2 separate regions of the Homo sapiens genome follow, and region 1 is linked to region 2. Evidence: fine-mapped expression QTL. A gene starts in region 2. The other region holds a variant in brackets. All regions are shown on one strand. Distances are from middle to middle. Region 1 overlaps DOCK8 (dedicator of cytokinesis 8). Region 2 holds the start of DOCK8 (dedicator of cytokinesis 8).

Region 1 (8,000 bases), 61 kb before region 2:
TCTGTTGGGAATATTTCCTTCCTGACTATCTGCCCTGCGGACTTTTAAGCTCGCTTAGCCACACACCAGCAGTAGGCAAGCCAATACCTTCACACACATCCATATGGATTTCCTACAGCTTCTGTTTCTCTGAGTGAACCTGACTGATACGCCTCCTTTCATTCATTCAACAAACACTACACTGGGGTCCTACAGACACTAGGCTAAAGAAACCGTCACTTCCCTCAAGCAATTTTCAATACTTCTCTAGTGAAGGCTTATGCAGTCTTTCTTTTTAGTTGTTTTTTTCAGACTTCTGGTCAGTAGACTAGAAACACACAAAAAATAATTAGAAATATCACCAAAGCTTAAATTATCCACAACCAAATATTCATTTTTAAAATTAAGCAAGTTTGAGATTTCCCTTGCCCCTAACACATGTCAAAGGCTATTTCTCCTGACAAAGGGTAAGATTCAATTTGTTCTCAAATTGAAAATTCCTACAACCCCAGAACCATATCTGTTGAAAATTAATCTACATAGCTCCTAACACAGTGTAGTATACAGATAGCTGACTCAAACCACAAATCTAAACAATATTTCACAAATAGGATAGTGAAAACAGAGAGGTTAAATGACTTGCCCCAAGTCACATGTGCAGTCACACAGGACCTGGCTGCCTCGTTACAGCACTGGGGAGGCTTCACGCCACTCCTGGTGGGGACGGGGAAGAGGCATGATGTCTCCAGCTGGCGCACCTGTATCCTCATGCATGTTTCTTTACCTTTTGGAGAGTGGTCCTCACATTTACTTGGCTGTTCACAACAGACAAGCCTTGTCAAAGTCACCTAAGACTTCATGATGCCAAATTCAATGGTTTTTGCTCAGTCCTGGTTTATTGGACACAGTTGTTCACTCTCTCCCTCTTGACATACTTTCTTCCCATGGAAGGCAACCAATTGTCTCAGGGTGTCCCAGTCTCTTAAAGTCTCATGTACTGAGAAAATCCTCAGTACCAGGCAAATTGTGACAGTTCGTTCCTCTATTTTACAGATACCACTTTTACTAGGTTTTCCTCCTGCTATGCAGTGCCCTGGAGTTCAATTCTAAATCTCTTCTCAATCTGCATTCAATCTCAAATGAACTCATTCACTCCCATGGCTTTAAATATACATTTTTAAAATTACAAGTTTATATCTGCAGCCTCAACTTCTGCCATAAATTCCAGGTTGACTTTTCCAATTACACCTCAACATCACTACTTGATAATTTAACAGACCTCTCAAACACAATGAGTTCAAAACTAACTCAACTTTCCTGGCAATCTGCTCTTCCCATACCTTCCATACCTCCACACTTCTGCAAGTGGCAATTCCAGTCCACCAATTGCCCAGGTGGAAAACATTAAAGTCAATCTTGCTTCTTCTCTTTCTCCTACACTCTACATATCACCCATCAGAAAATCCTATCCACTTTCTTCTGAAATATATCCAGAATACTTCTCACTTTCTCTTCTGCCACCACCCTCGTCCAAAGCACCGGTATTGCTTTCCTGAGTTACCGTGACATCTTCCTAACTGCCCTCCCTCGTCCAGTCTATTTTCCACACTGCAGCCAGAGTGATCCTCATAAAAAGTCAAATGGTTCCACGCCCAACCTCAATGCTCACAGCAGCTTCCTGTCTTAGAGTAGGAGCCAATGTTCTACAGTCTCTGAGGCCTGTGACCCAGCCCTGCTTTCTCTATGACTGCATTTCCTACTGCCCACTCTGTTCAGGCCTCATTCTGCTTCCTTGCTGCTTCTGGAGCACGTCACTTATTGAAGTTTTGGGGACTTTGCACGTACTGTTCCTTCTGACTGGAATATTTTTCCTTCAGATGTCCGTCAAGTTCATTCAGAATTCTGCCCAAGTGTCTCCTTTCTAGATAGAGGCCTTCACGGATGATCCAATCTAAAAGCATCTCTTCTGGGTCACGATTTCATTCTTCAAAGCCCTCAATACTCCCTGACACAATCGACATTTTCTATTTGTCTGCGTCTGTCCCTCATTCTGAAAGGCAAACTCTATGAGGATAGGCCCTCTATTGTATTCACTGTTGTATCTTCAATCTCACTGCTGTGCCAGCAGTTCCTGACATAGAGACCCAATACATATTTCTAAAACGAATGAGTAAGCTCTCTACTATCTTTAAACGAAGCTGAAGGCAGTAAAGTTCTTCTAGCTTCTGTGATATCGAAGTTCTGTACTTTATGGACTAAACACTCTCCTGCTTCCAACAACAACAATCTAGCACTGATGCCACTAAGAGGGAGATGCTGACATGCCACCATGGGCATCACTCTAGTTTCACCAAGGCTGAGTTGATTCCTCTGCTGAACAATGACAATAAAGAAACGTCTGCTCTGTGTGCAGAATGCCTGCCACTCTTTCCTTTTATCTTCCATTGTGAATTTGCAAGAAAATTATCTTGAGATCTTCATTTTCCGTCATGTCCCTTCCAGTGCAATCAGTGAAACCTAAGAATAGCCCAACCCCTTGAAAGATGAAGTGCAAAAGAACAACAGAATCAGAAGAATAAAAGAGGACCATATTTATCAGGCAATTAACCATTTAAGTCATCATGAGCTGTAAAATAAAAAAGGCTGCTTTATTGCACAGAAGCCTATACACATAACAAAAATAAATGCCTTCTAAGCTATGAGACTTTTTTTTTAAATAAATGTTACATATACAAACATGCCATGTAACCATGGTGTTTGGTACATATCCAGGATGTGGCTTTTTACATCCTTTTCTTCAGTCAGAGCCGTTATGGTCCAGCTAATTCATTCCATTTCACTTCAAAATTGTTCTATTCTCACTTTTAAAAATAGGATTTTTCCCTCCATAAAATATGTAGCTTAAGGTTATTAACCACCTACACAGTCTCAAATCCTCCTTACTTCCTTAGGGCATAGATCCTAACTCTTTCTTCTCTTGTCCTCTCGCCTCCCCTCCCCTCCTTTCCTCTGAGACAGGGTCTCCTAACTCTTCTCTTGTATGTTACTCTTCTTTTGTATGTCTTCTCTTCTCTTCTCTTCTCTTCTCTTCTCTCTTTCTCTTCTCCTCTCTTCTCTTTTCTTTTCTGAGACAGGGTCTCACTCTGTTGCCCAGGCTAGAGTACTGTGGCTCAATCATGGCTCACTGCAGCCTCCAACTCCTGAGTTCAAGTGATCCTTCTGCCTCAGCCTCGCAAGTAGCTGGGACTAAAGGCATGTGCCACCATGCCTGGCTAATTTTTCTTTTTAACTTTGTTGTAGAGATGAGTTCTCACTATGTTGCCTAGGCTGGCCTCGAACTCTTGGCTTCAAGCTATCCTCCTGCCTCTGCCTCCCAAATTGTTGGGATTACATACAGCCATGAGCCATTGTGCCTGGCTTCTACTTTGAACAATCAGAAAATAGGCCGGGTGTAATGACTCATACCTGTAATCCCAGCACTTTGGGAGGCCAAGGCAGGCAGATCACTGAAGCTCAGGAGTTCAAGACCAGCCTGGACAACATGGAGAAACTCCGTCTCTACAAAAAAAATACAAAAATTAGCCAGGCGCAATGGTGCGCCTGTGGTCCCAGTTACTTGGGAGGCTGAGGCAGGAGAATCGCTTGAGCCTGGGAGGCGGAGGTTGTAGTGAGCCAAGATTGTACCACTGCACTCCAGCCTGGGCGACAGAGCAAGGCCCTGTCTCTAAATAAATAAATAAATAAATGAAAAGACAATAGTATATTACAGTTTCATTTTAACAGAGGTACTGATTATAGACTTGTTTGCCTGAATAGGTGGCTGGCA[C/G]CAGAGGGTCTCTGGTTAATCTATTCACACAGCTGTGGCAATAGAGAATGCCAAAGCCAATAAGTGAGTCTACACACAGGGTTATTTACTAGCCACAGCTGCCTTCTAGCCCTGGTCACAAAGGATTTTGGTAGGAGTGTCAAATAGACCTGGGACAAGTTTATCATCACATCTAGAAAACCAACTTCAAATGATGGATCCCCTTCATACTAAAAAATGCAAAATTTGAAAATATTTTATCTACTTAGAAAATGTTTATACACATAGTCATCAGACCTGATATTTATAGTTTTTAAAAACCCCAATAAAACAAAAAGAAAAATCAACATCAAACATACACCCTTCCTCTCATCTGATTTATCAGATTTATGACAGAAACCACTGTATTTTCTAAGGATATATCTGTAGGGTTAGTAAGTGGTCTTTGCTTACTACACCTTCTGAAATTCAAAGCACACAGGGCAAAATAAGTGTTACCTTTCTTTATATATTCCCCCCATTTGGAATACGTCTACCTTTAAAGTTTTTTTAAATGGGCCGAGCGCAGTGGCTCAAGCCTGTAATCCCAGCACTTTGGGAGGCCGAGGCGGGCGGATCACCTGAGGTCAGAAGTTCAAGACCAGCCTGGCCAACATGGCGAAACCCCGTCTTTACTAAAAATACAAAAATTAGCCAGACATGGCGGCAGCTGCCTGTAATCCCAGCTACTCAGGATGCTAAGTCAGGAGAATCACTTGAACGCAGGAGGCAGAGGTTGCAGAGAGCAGAAATCACATCACTGCACTCCAGCCTGGGTGACAGAGGGAAATTCCATTACAAAAAAAAAAAGTAAAACTAGGCCGGGCCCAGTGGCTCATGCCTGTAATCCCAGCACTTTGGGAGGCCGAGGTGGGTGGATCACTTGAGGTCAGGAGTTTGTGACCAGCCTGGCCAACATGGTGAAACCCTGTCTCTACTAAAAGTACAAAAATTAGCCAGTTGTGGTGGTGCACGCCTGTATTCCTAGCTACTGGGGAGGCTGAGGCAGGAGAATAGCTTGGACCTGGGAGGCAGGAGTTGCAGTGAGCCAAGATTGCGCCACTGCACTCCAGCCTGGGTGACAGAGCGAGACTCCATCTCAAAAAATACATTAAAATTTTAAATAAATAAATAACAGAGCTGTTTAAATGATTCTCAACCTGGGCTTCAAGTTAAAGTCCCCAGGGAACTTTAAAATACTGATGCTTGGTCCCCACCCCCAGGAATTCTGATTGAATTGTCCCTAGATAATTTTAATGTCCAGTCAGGGCTGAGAACCCTTACTCTAAGTCTTCTCAGCCTTCTCAATCAAGCCTTTGCCTCCTATCACATCATGTATCCTTTTCTCTTCTAAACACCTGCCACTTTTGAAGCCAGTATATTCTACATTACCTGTTCTCCCAAATGGATCATAAAGCCCTTCAGAGCTGAAGTCACCTTTTATTCATCATCTTCTTTTAATCTCCCACAGTGTCTCCATAGTGCCAAATCGTAAGAGAGCAATACTAGCCAATATATACAAAGGACCCATTATATAATTCTATATTCCCTACTAGGGACAGCATTATTATGCCAATTTTACAAATGAAGAAACTGAAGTCTTCAGAGAGATTAAGTGGCTTGTCACAAATTACATGACTAATAAATGACAACTGTACCTCATCCCAGATTCACCTGACTCCAAGCTCTTCACTCTTGCAAAACAGCAGCAACAACAAAGACGTGTAAATGATTAGGTTCTAAATAACTTGACTTCAATTAAATGCTTTTTAAAATTAAACAATCATTTGTATCAGCAAGTGGGCCATTGAAATGGTGGTTGTAAAAATAAAGGTAAGAGAAACGAAGGTCAGAACGCACTTGGTCTTATTTTTCAATTAGCCAAAATAATGCAACGAAAACCTACGGCTTCTCATTTTAAGGAAAGTTTTCTAAAACAGCTTTAGGTTGAGAGTCTTTAGATGATAAACTACTCCTTTGCCTTCCTAGAAATGAATCTTACCGACATGTTCCATTATCTTTCCATGAAAAGAAATTTTTTTTTAAAGGTAAAAGGAAATCACCACATAAGTTGATGATTTCTTTTGGGGAACCTTCATTCGGGACGATGACTCAAGGGGAAGAACAGCCACTTCATTCTGACATTACAACACGATACCAGGTAAACATTATGGAGATGGATTTCCTAAGCAGACTATTCATCTAAAAAAAAAAAAAGAAAAGAAAGAAAAGAAAAAAAAAAGAATTCAATCCTCTGGGCTTCCACATGCCTCCGTTCTCCAGGTAGAAGGAACAAGAGCCATATACTGAAGTTGAAGTCAAGAGATGGGAAAAGAGATTCAGAAAAGTAAAGCGGAATAACTGGGAGTAATATATTCTAAAGGATATTCACATGCAAATAGAACCAAGACTAAATGATGACAGGTAGGAACATGTGATTCTTGCATAATTTAACAATTTTACTTATTGTTGCTGGTTTCTTGATATCTTAGAAAATGGACAGCTAAGCCACATGTTAACGTCACTACCCGGCTAAGGTAGTAATTCATCAAAATTCACTTTCATCAAAACTTACTGAGGAGGCAGCAAACTTACCAAACGAATGCTTACAGATATTAAGCATTATTTTCCTTTGTAACTTTACATAAAATAATTTCTCCTGAAAGAAAATTTAAGGCTGTGGCATTAAAGTAAAAGCTGGTGGCCGGGCATGGTGGCTCATGCTCGTAATCCCAGCACTTTGGGAGGCCTAGGCGGGCGGATCACCTGAGGTCAGGAGTTAGAGACCAGCCCTACCAACATGGAGAAACCCCGTCTCTACTCAAAATACAAAATTAGCCAGATGTGATGGTGCATGCCTGTAATCCCAGCTACTCGGGAGGCTGAGGCAGGAGAATTGCTTGAACTACAGGAGAATTGCTTGAACTAGGAGGCAGAGGTTGCGATGAGCCGAGATGGTGCCATTGCACTCCAGCCTGCGTGACAAGAGCTAAACTCCATCTCAAAAAAAAAAAAAAAAGAGTAAAAGCTGGTATGGAGAGAAAGGGTTAAAGCCTGTTAGCTAAACTTCCTTAACGTCTCTTAGGAGTGATGTCCACACTACTTCCCAAGACAACTACTGCAGAAAGCTGCAGCCTTCATTTACTTTTTAAAAAAGCAAAGCACTAAACCCTCTACCTTGTTTAAAATTTAAAAGTGTATCCAATCTATTTTAAACTAAATTTTGCATGTTTTGGAATACAACTTCAGTCAATTTAAAAAAATTTTTTTGATTTTTCAATTAAATATATATTAGCACAAATTAAACCAATAAGCATATCTAATTTATCTTGGTGTAAAGCTTATCTAATATACCTGAAAATGGACACAATATGCACTTGACATGCCTTTATTATACTCTGCAATTCTGAAACACAGGAAAAGTACAAATAAAAAGGCCAGTCTAGCAAGCCACTGAAGTCATAAGTAGATTTTCTGAAAAAATGGCATGGAAAGTTACCTCCTGCAGTAAAAGATGCTATAGGTTTTTCGTACTACTATTTCATTAATGACGCAACACACAAATTATCCTTCTGAAATAACCAGAAATCACTCCAGTAAAACATACCTTTGAAAGATTCACAGTTACACGGCGCGTAAATTGTTACAGGAGACAAAATGGCGGTTACCGGAAACTGAGCGGAAGGTTACAAAATTTCTAAGGCAGAAGTGGTTTCGAAGTAATAAGTAGAAACAAAAAGTAACCTAACCTCTTCAAGATAAGCAGCAGAACCAGCAAGAGTGCTGCTGTGCTGTGTGAGGAAGTGAGTACAGGAGGGCTGGAGCTCTCTCACAGAGGAAGTGAATATTCACTGCTGGTTTTACAAACCATCTCATTTGTCAGATTTATCTCACTTGGCACACATCTGGCATTTAGTGCTCAAATAATATAACACATATAGGCACACTCAACAATTGGCATTGATATAAAAATGTAGGCAATCTTCAATTTAAGAGGAAATGTGTTTTAAAAATGAAGGTTTAGGGCCAGGTGCAGTGGCTCACTGTAATCCCAGCACTTTGGGAGGCTGAGGCAGGAGGATCGCTTGAGCCCAGGAGTTCAAGACCAGCCTGGGCAACATAGCGAGACCCCTGTCTCTACAAAAAGTACAAAAATTAGCCAGGTGTGGTGGCATGC
Region 2 (8,000 bases):
ACTCTGTCGCCCAGGCTGGAATGCAGTGGCACATCTCAGCTCACTGTAGCCTCCACCTCCCAGGTTCAAGCAATTATCCCACCTCAGCCTCCTAAGTAGCTGGGATTACAGGTGCACACCACTACACCTGGCTAATTTTTGTATTTTTTAGTAGAGACGGGGTTTCGCCATGTTGGCCAGGCCGGTCTTGAACTCCTGACCTCAGGTGATCGTCCCGCCTTGGCCTCCCAAAATGCTGAGATTACAGGCGTGAGCCAGTGCACCCAGCTCTGTTTGTTCCTTTTCTGAAAGGACGAAATGAAGGTATATAAAGTTCTTAGCACAATATGTAGCACATAGTAAATAATTAATAAATGTTACCTATTATTATTTTAAAATAAAACTGAGATGGCAGCATGGTATAATGATTAAAAGAGAAGACTCTGGAGCCAGGCTGCCTGCATTTGAATCTCAGCTGTGACCTTAATTAGTTGTTTGTGAGTTTGGACAATTTCTATATCTTCTCTGCACTCAGTTTCTCCATCTGTAAAACGGAGATAGTCATTGCTCCTATCTCATAGAGGTGAATGAGTTACGATATGTAAATATTTAGAACTGTCTCTGCCACATAGAAAGCATTCTAGAAGTGTAAGCCATTATTTTTTCTTCCTTTCAATCCTGACTGTCCACAAGAGGGTTAATGTTTTTTTCTGCATTCTACACTTTCGTCCTCTTTATCCAAGGTTCTTATTTTACTTTAATATTTGATCAAATTTTACATCTATTCTGTATTTGAAAGACACTAAGATTTTGTTTAATAAATTTTCAGAGTACTAGTAATAATTTTTATAATCTACAAAGGCACTAAATTCCAGTAAGAAAAAAGGCAATTAACAAGACTAGATGTTCCCACAAGTACCATGTTATGACATTTAATGCAGCAGCACCTGAAATCCCAAACGCAAATGTTATTACGAACTGCCTAACTTAGATCTAGTCTTTCCTTGGCACGCAAGTCAGCAACAAAAAAATGGAAATGAAGACAAGTATATAGCACTTACAAGAAAATTAATTTCACCTTTCTTCTCAGACTGTGAGATAGTCTGCTCACTCCTTCTGGAGACTGGTGTGGTCAGAACTGAACGCTTTACAAATAATATTTTTAATATATCAGATTTGAATACTTCATTAACAGGAAGCACACTGGTTTTATCCCACAAATATTTTTAAGAGATAGTTTACACTATTCTGAGTAGTAAGGTGAAAAACATGAGCACATGCTGAATGTACTAATGGCCATATTTCAACACAGTCTTACTTTTGGAATTTGACCTATTTAAAAAAAATAATAGGTAGGCACGTAAGGGAAAACATTTCTTTTCCACCTTCAACATTGCAAAACATCACATTGTTAATGTTTATATATTAAACACTAATCAGAAACAGAACACTTTGCCAATGCTGCTACCAAAATGATGATTTTTTAAAAATTAATTCCCCTCTTGCTTTAAAGGAAATTCTTGGGATACATATGCATCAAAATAACAATCGGCCCAATTAAGAGCACAGTCTTTGGAGCAGTTTGCAATCCCAGCTCTGCCATTGCTGGTTGTATGGTCTTGAAAAAATTACATGGCCTTGTGCAGCTGTATCTCCAAGATTCCTTTTCCTCTTCTGTACAAGACTTCATGAGTTTGATAGGCTTTTTGTGAGAATTTAATCATAAAATCCATTAACTGTATAATATAGTGTCTGGGACACAATAAGTAAACAATAAATGGTGAAATTAAATGATATATGAATACTAGGTATGTCCTTATTAATCTGCTCCTTTGAATAATAATTTCTGCCAAGCTCCTTAGCATAACTCTCCCACACAACACACAGAGTGCTTCAAAAAGGAAAACAGAACTCTAAGAATACGAATTTCCAATCCATTTTCTTGCCTGAGGATTATAGAACCTTTTATACTTTATTAAACTTGAGGGGGCTCTTCTTGATCAGATTTCATCACATATTTTCTTCCATTGAATGTGTTTTGGGTTCTCAGCACCAGATGGAAGGCACAGGCGGAGAAACACTGGCCCCAAGAAAGCTCCCAGCCAGCCACTGGCATCTCCATACCTAACCCAAACTGATCTCTGCCTGAAGCTCTCCAACTTCAGCTTTCCTTCCTACCTTTCTATCTTAGGCTCTCAAAGATGGTGATGATGGAGATAATGACAGCAGTGAAGCTGATTGTAATGTTAATGATGGCAACTAAGAATTATTCACCATTTATTCTGAGCCAGACACTACAAGCAACATGCAATCAACATGAAAATCATTAACAAGACATTTTGCATTATTTTTTCTGTACTGTCTCTAAATTCCAATGTGTATGTTACACATCCAGCACTTGGCAATTCGGACTTTGTACCTATTATTCATTTAATCCTCCCCACAGTCATAAGAAGTAGGTACTATGATCAACTCTACTTGGCACATAAAGAAACCAAAGCTTAGAGAAGTTAAGTAACATGTCCAATGTTGCACAGTGACTTTGTAGCAGAGAGCCAATTTGCAAGCAGATCAGACACTAACCAGGGCCTTTATTCTTAACCCCCAGGTGACACCGACCCCGCAGTTGCTTGCAAGACTGCCTGTAGGATTAGTCCGGGTCTCGGCCACTCACCCCAGATCAACCCTGCCCAACCCCATAGTTTCTAACATCTTTCTGCCCCAGTCACACTTCCTGATCTAAAATTCACAAAGACAGAGGATCAGGAGCTATAGCAAATAATACACCCATCAGTAACTTCAGTTTGATTCCCTATACTCCTTGAATGAATTACCCCTCCTGGCATGCAACAGCTATGAACCTTAATGTAGAAAAAAATTCCCATAGGGAGATCCCTGATATACTTCATGCCTTGTTTTTGCTTTTTTTTTTTTTTTTTTGTCTGTTTTTTGAGACAAGGTTTCACTCTCTCACCCAGGCTGGAATGCAGTGGCATGATCACAGCTGTGATCCTCCTGGGCTCAAGCGATGCTCTTGTCTCAGCCTCTTGAATAGCTGGGGCTACAGGTGCATGCAACCACACCTGGCTAATGTTTTAAAATTATTTTTTTGTAGCCACAGGGGTCCCACTATGTTGCCCAGGCTGGTCTCAAACTCTGGGCTCAAGTAATCCTCCCATCTGGGCCTCCCAAATTGCTGGGATTAGAGGTGTGAGCCATGGCACCCAGCCTCTTTATGCCTTTTGACTAGTACCTTTTGGCCTCCAACATTAATATGCAATATACATAAATAATTAAACTCATTTTACAGATGACGAAATAGTAAGGTAAGAGAAACAGTTTGCTGGCAGTCACGTATCAAGTGGAAATAAAATCGTCAATAAAGCTCGATATGCCCTCTAGAAGACCTTATCGCCTTGTTTTTCTAGGCTTTTAATTCCTTGTTCAAACCTCTTCACACACTAACAGCACAAAGATGAACCTACGGTGGAATCCACCTTTCACAGGCTCAGCTAAGTGAAGATTAACAAATCGGACAGCCCTGTGGGCAATAGAATAAGTTGACACTTTAGAATGAGTTTCCTATTATCTTTTAACTAGACAGTCTAGCTTTCTCAGGGCAAGACAAAAATGTCCCAATTACTTGTCAGCAGTTTTTAGTGGAGGAAAAACTGCAGTTAAAGCACCTTTACTGAGAACTTTGAGCAGTAAATGTGCTTACATATTTAGTTTGTGCAACTTTGATTAGGAATTGGATGGTGAGTTGGGATCCCCCAGTCCTTAGCTTTTTGCTGGAGTTCTGTAAATCTCAAAATGTCAGCCACAGGCCATTTCTTTTGGTTTATTTAAGTGTAGATTTTTTAAAAAATCACTTTTTCCACTTCATGGCTCCTTTGGACCAGGGTATAAAAATAGCGATGCCACCAGGAGCCAAGCTCTTTCTGGAATAATGAAGCAGGCGAGGACGGAGCCTTGCTCAGGACGACAGAAGGCTTGCAGCCTGCCTCAAACGCAACTCTAATTTCAGCCACTTCACTTCTTCCCCCCGCGCTCAGACTTGCCTCAAAGGAAGGAGCCGTTTATGAGACACTCCGTGGCGCGCCCAACACGGTTACCCAGGCGCCTATCACCCTTCTGGGACCCGGCCACCTGTAAGAACCTGGAGGGCGGAGCGGGCGAGGTTGTTCGGGGAAGGGATCCCCGGCGGCTGAGGACATCCAGGAGCACCGAGATTCTTGGGGAGGACCTCGCCGGGCCCAGCGCAGGAGCCGCCGCGCGTCCAGCGGCTCCACCGCCGCAGCCTCGGGAACCGGGCGCCCCAGGTCTCAGGCGCGCCCCGCCGCGGACGCGAATGGACTCGTCCGGCCTCGGCCCCTGCAGCGAAGCTCCGCTTCACACCAGCGCTGGGCTGTCCGGCCGCAACCTGCGCGCCGCGGGGGGCGTCTTACCTGTTGATCTTGAGCGCGAACGCGCGGCGCTCTGCGCTCGGCAGAGTGGCCATGGCCCGCCGGCGGTTCGGTGGCTTCTAGGGTCGCGGGGTGCGGAAAGCGGGGGCCTGGCGCGCCGCAGAGTAGCCGCGGAACATGCCCAGCCAAGCGCAAACCTCGTCTGTCGGTCGGCGCTGGAAACTTCCGCATTTCCACCTTCTAAGCCGAAATCACCCCGGGGGAGGGTCCGAGCTCGGAGCAGCGACGGCCGGCTCCGCCACCCGGCCTGGCGCGCAGGCAGCGGCGGGCGAGGAGGGCGTGGGCCCAGCGCGGAACTGGCCTCCCGATACTGGGGCAGACGGCGCGCTCTGCCCGGGGCCGCCGACCTCCGGCCGAAGGGAGCGCGGGCGGACGACAGGCGACCACTGCGCGCAGGCCGGAAGCTCCATCTGCCCGAAGCTGCGAGGCTGCCAGGGAATGTAGGCAAGTCGGGGGAGCCCCACAAAGCTGGCGAGGTCGGGAATCACCCCAGGGATTCGTAAGGCTAGGTGTTATTAAGGGTTGACACCATTCTCGAAGAAGGCAGCCAAAAAAAAAGACAAAAAAGTTAGTGGAATCTATCAGGATTCAAATCAACTTTTGCAAGCAATATGCCCATCATCCTTCCTGAGACACTAAATAAATATAATGGATTCATCCAAGGAATAAACATTATGAGTTCTCAAAAAATGTTTTCGTCACAACCTGGCGTGAATGCTTTTCTCCGGAGAAACACTGAAGGCGGCGTTCTTGCGATTCAAGGGTACGCTGCGTCCAGGTTTATTTCAGTTTCAGACTGAGGTCTGCTAAGAAGCCCGGCCTCAAACTCAAGATAAAAACAGAAAAGTCCCAGTGTTGACGGGAGTGGAGGAGCCCGTGTTCGCTTCAAGGTGCCGGCGTGCTGCTCTAACCTGTGCTATATATACTCGAGCACTCTCCATATAATGCCTCCATTTACCAACTTGCTCTTAAAAAATACCAAAGCAGGCCGGGCGCGGTGGCTCACGCCTGTGATCCCAGCACTTTGGGAGGCCGAGGCGGGCGCATCACGAGGTCAGGAGATCGAGACCATCCTGGCCAACGTGGTGAAACCCCGTCTCTACTAAAATACAAAAAATTAGCCGGGCGTGGTGGCGCACGCCTTAGTCCCAGCTACTTGGGAGGCTGAGGCAGGGGAATCACTTGAACCCGGGAGGCGGAGCTTGCAGTGAACCGAGATCTGCCACTGCACTCCAGCCTGGCGACAGAGCAAGTCTCCGTCTAAAAGAAAAAAAAAAAAACAACCAAAGCGAAGTATTTTTGGTTCAAACCTGCACTATTTAATATGATAGCCACTAGCCACATGTGGCTATTGACCACTCGGCATTATGGTTAGTCTGAATTGCCCACTGCTGGATGTGTAAAATGTACACTGGAATTTAAAGACAGCGCAGAAAACATCGTGTAAAATGTCTTGTTAATGATTTTCATGTTGATTGCATGTTAAATGATACTTTGGATATAAAAAATATATTATTAAAGTTAATTTCACCTGTTTGTTTTCCCCTTTTAAAAATGTGGTTTGCATTTTTAAAAATGTAAAATTACACATGTGGCTCACATTTGTGAGCCTCATTATATTCCTATTGGACAGTGCCAGTCCAATACAACCTAATTTGTCACCTAATACTAAAATCCACCTAAGGACTATATTCAGTCTCTTCCTGATACAGCCTTCCTTCCTGGTTTCAGCTGTGTCAGGTAGTTTAGTAACTTTTCAGTACTGGTTAGGTAACTCCCCGCCCCCCAATGCCCACCAAATATCAGTGCCCTTTTAAGCATATAAGACAAAGTTCACTGCATAGACTACAATAGACTACATACGAAAACAAACCCAAAGAAAAATAAAGCTTTTTTGAAATTTAGAGTTTCTGACTTTCAAAACTGTCCTTATTTACTACATTGGAATTTATGAGCAAACATTTGGATAGCAAAATACAAAGAGAACAAATGTGTAAGTACTTCTTCAAACTGAGACTCAACGAATGATACATAGAAAACATTTTGCCCCAGAGGCTTCGGTCCACGGTGTACCATGTCAGCCTTTCGGATGAACTCCTCTGAATTTCTGAATGTTTATGACATACATTTTCATATAGAACAAAAATATACTGGTTTCACACAAACATAAATAAAATGTAATGAAAGCATCTCAGATTTTCAGCATTTGCAATCAAGGAAACTTTTTGGGTGAATGTGGGAATCATAAAACCTTCCATCTTGCCTCAGATCATACTGCAATAGATTTAGTATTTGGTACCTAACCATGAAGGTTAGGCCAGCATTATTATCCTCTGTGCTGTCAATTTCTTGATGGTTAGAATTGTCTCCAGATTTCCTTAACACTCTTTTAACAATTCACCATGAATGTGTTATCCATTAATTTAGTCAAATGCCTGTTTTCAAGTTTGATCTGCTGTTAGATACATTCACATATTGCTGGCAAATAGCCATCCAAGTGCCTTTCTTCCTTATTCTCACTGCCTCTTTCGTTTTCCATCAGCCCTCTGTCCAGAGAGAACTCTGGGAGGCCTCCTTCTTTCCGCATCTGATGGTCTCTCTTGGCCTTCCTCTTTCTCCGTATCTTTGTGTCATTCAATTTTGTTTTTCACCTTTATACAACTCTTCCCTTGACTTCTATCTCAGACCATACATCAATTATCCTAAATGCTCTAGTTTTCCCCACATCTTCTTCTTACCTCCCCAGAAAGCCGACCTCTTTCTCTACATTGCATCTTACCTATTTTATTGAACAAACAACTAAATAACACTTATCTTGTACCGGGTACTGCTCCAAGTCCTTTATAAAAATTAATTCATAGCAACCATTAAATAATAACATTAACCCCCCCACACATACCTCTTTGCAACTGGAGAAACTGAGGCTTAGAGAAGTTAAGTGACTTGACCAAGATTACAAACTAGTAAGGGCAGAGCCATTTCCTATCCTAAAGTTTTGCCTATTTCCCAGATTTCTGTACTCTAACATCTTCAAACTCCAGTATAAAACTAAAATTCTCCATCTACCCTACTTAACTGGAAGCTAGCTATCTCTCCATAATCACACATTTTTTGGGGGGTCGGTGGTGGCACACTACTTCCTCATTTTCCAGGTTTAAAACTTTGGAGTCATCCAGTGGAGGGAAAAGCAGGAAATCTGGGTTCTGGCTTCAGCTTTTTGCTAATTGTGTAATCCCGAGTAAGTCACACGGTCTTTGGATCACAGAGGCCTGTATCTTGGAATGACTCCATCTGCTTGCCTCTCTCTGAACTTTAGAAATACGTCAGCTCTAACTTTTTTTCCTCCTGTGTCCTTCAGATCTAATCACCTACCAAGGTCTGCCATTTATTTCTTATAAATATCACTTCTTTGTAAATATCACTGTTCTCACAGTGGCTTTCATTCCGGTCCAGCCCTTATAAATTAATACCTAGATAACAAAAATAAGATTTTAAATGGCTTCACTGCCTGTAGCCTCTTCTTTCTCCTATCTCATCTGTTTCTATCACTAGATG

What was found. PIP is the estimated chance that this variant, and not a neighbour inherited with it, causes the effect.
Region 1: its variant is fine-mapped to the expression of DOCK8 in whole blood (TwinsUK, PIP 0.95).

What each region holds. Positions count from the first base shown.
Region 1 is chr9:272,531-280,530 of GRCh38, reverse strand. All of the region lies in intron 2 of DOCK8 (dedicator of cytokinesis 8), which reads right to left. Among named protein-coding and RNA genes, the nearest start is that of DOCK8-AS1, 61 kb to the right of the region's middle. The variant C/G (reference allele first, on the strand shown) is at 3,806.
Region 2 is chr9:211,457-219,456 of GRCh38, reverse strand. DOCK8 (dedicator of cytokinesis 8) reads right to left here and starts at 4,592. Exons shown (of 48, transcript NM_203447.4): 1 at 4,428-4,592. The coding sequence starts at 4,480. DOCK8-AS1 (DOCK8 antisense RNA 1) reads left to right here and starts at 3,707. Exons shown (of 1, transcript NR_160804.1): 1 at 3,707-6,000. RefSeq lists silencers at 4,118-4,257, 4,428-4,477, 4,528-4,577, 4,588-4,837.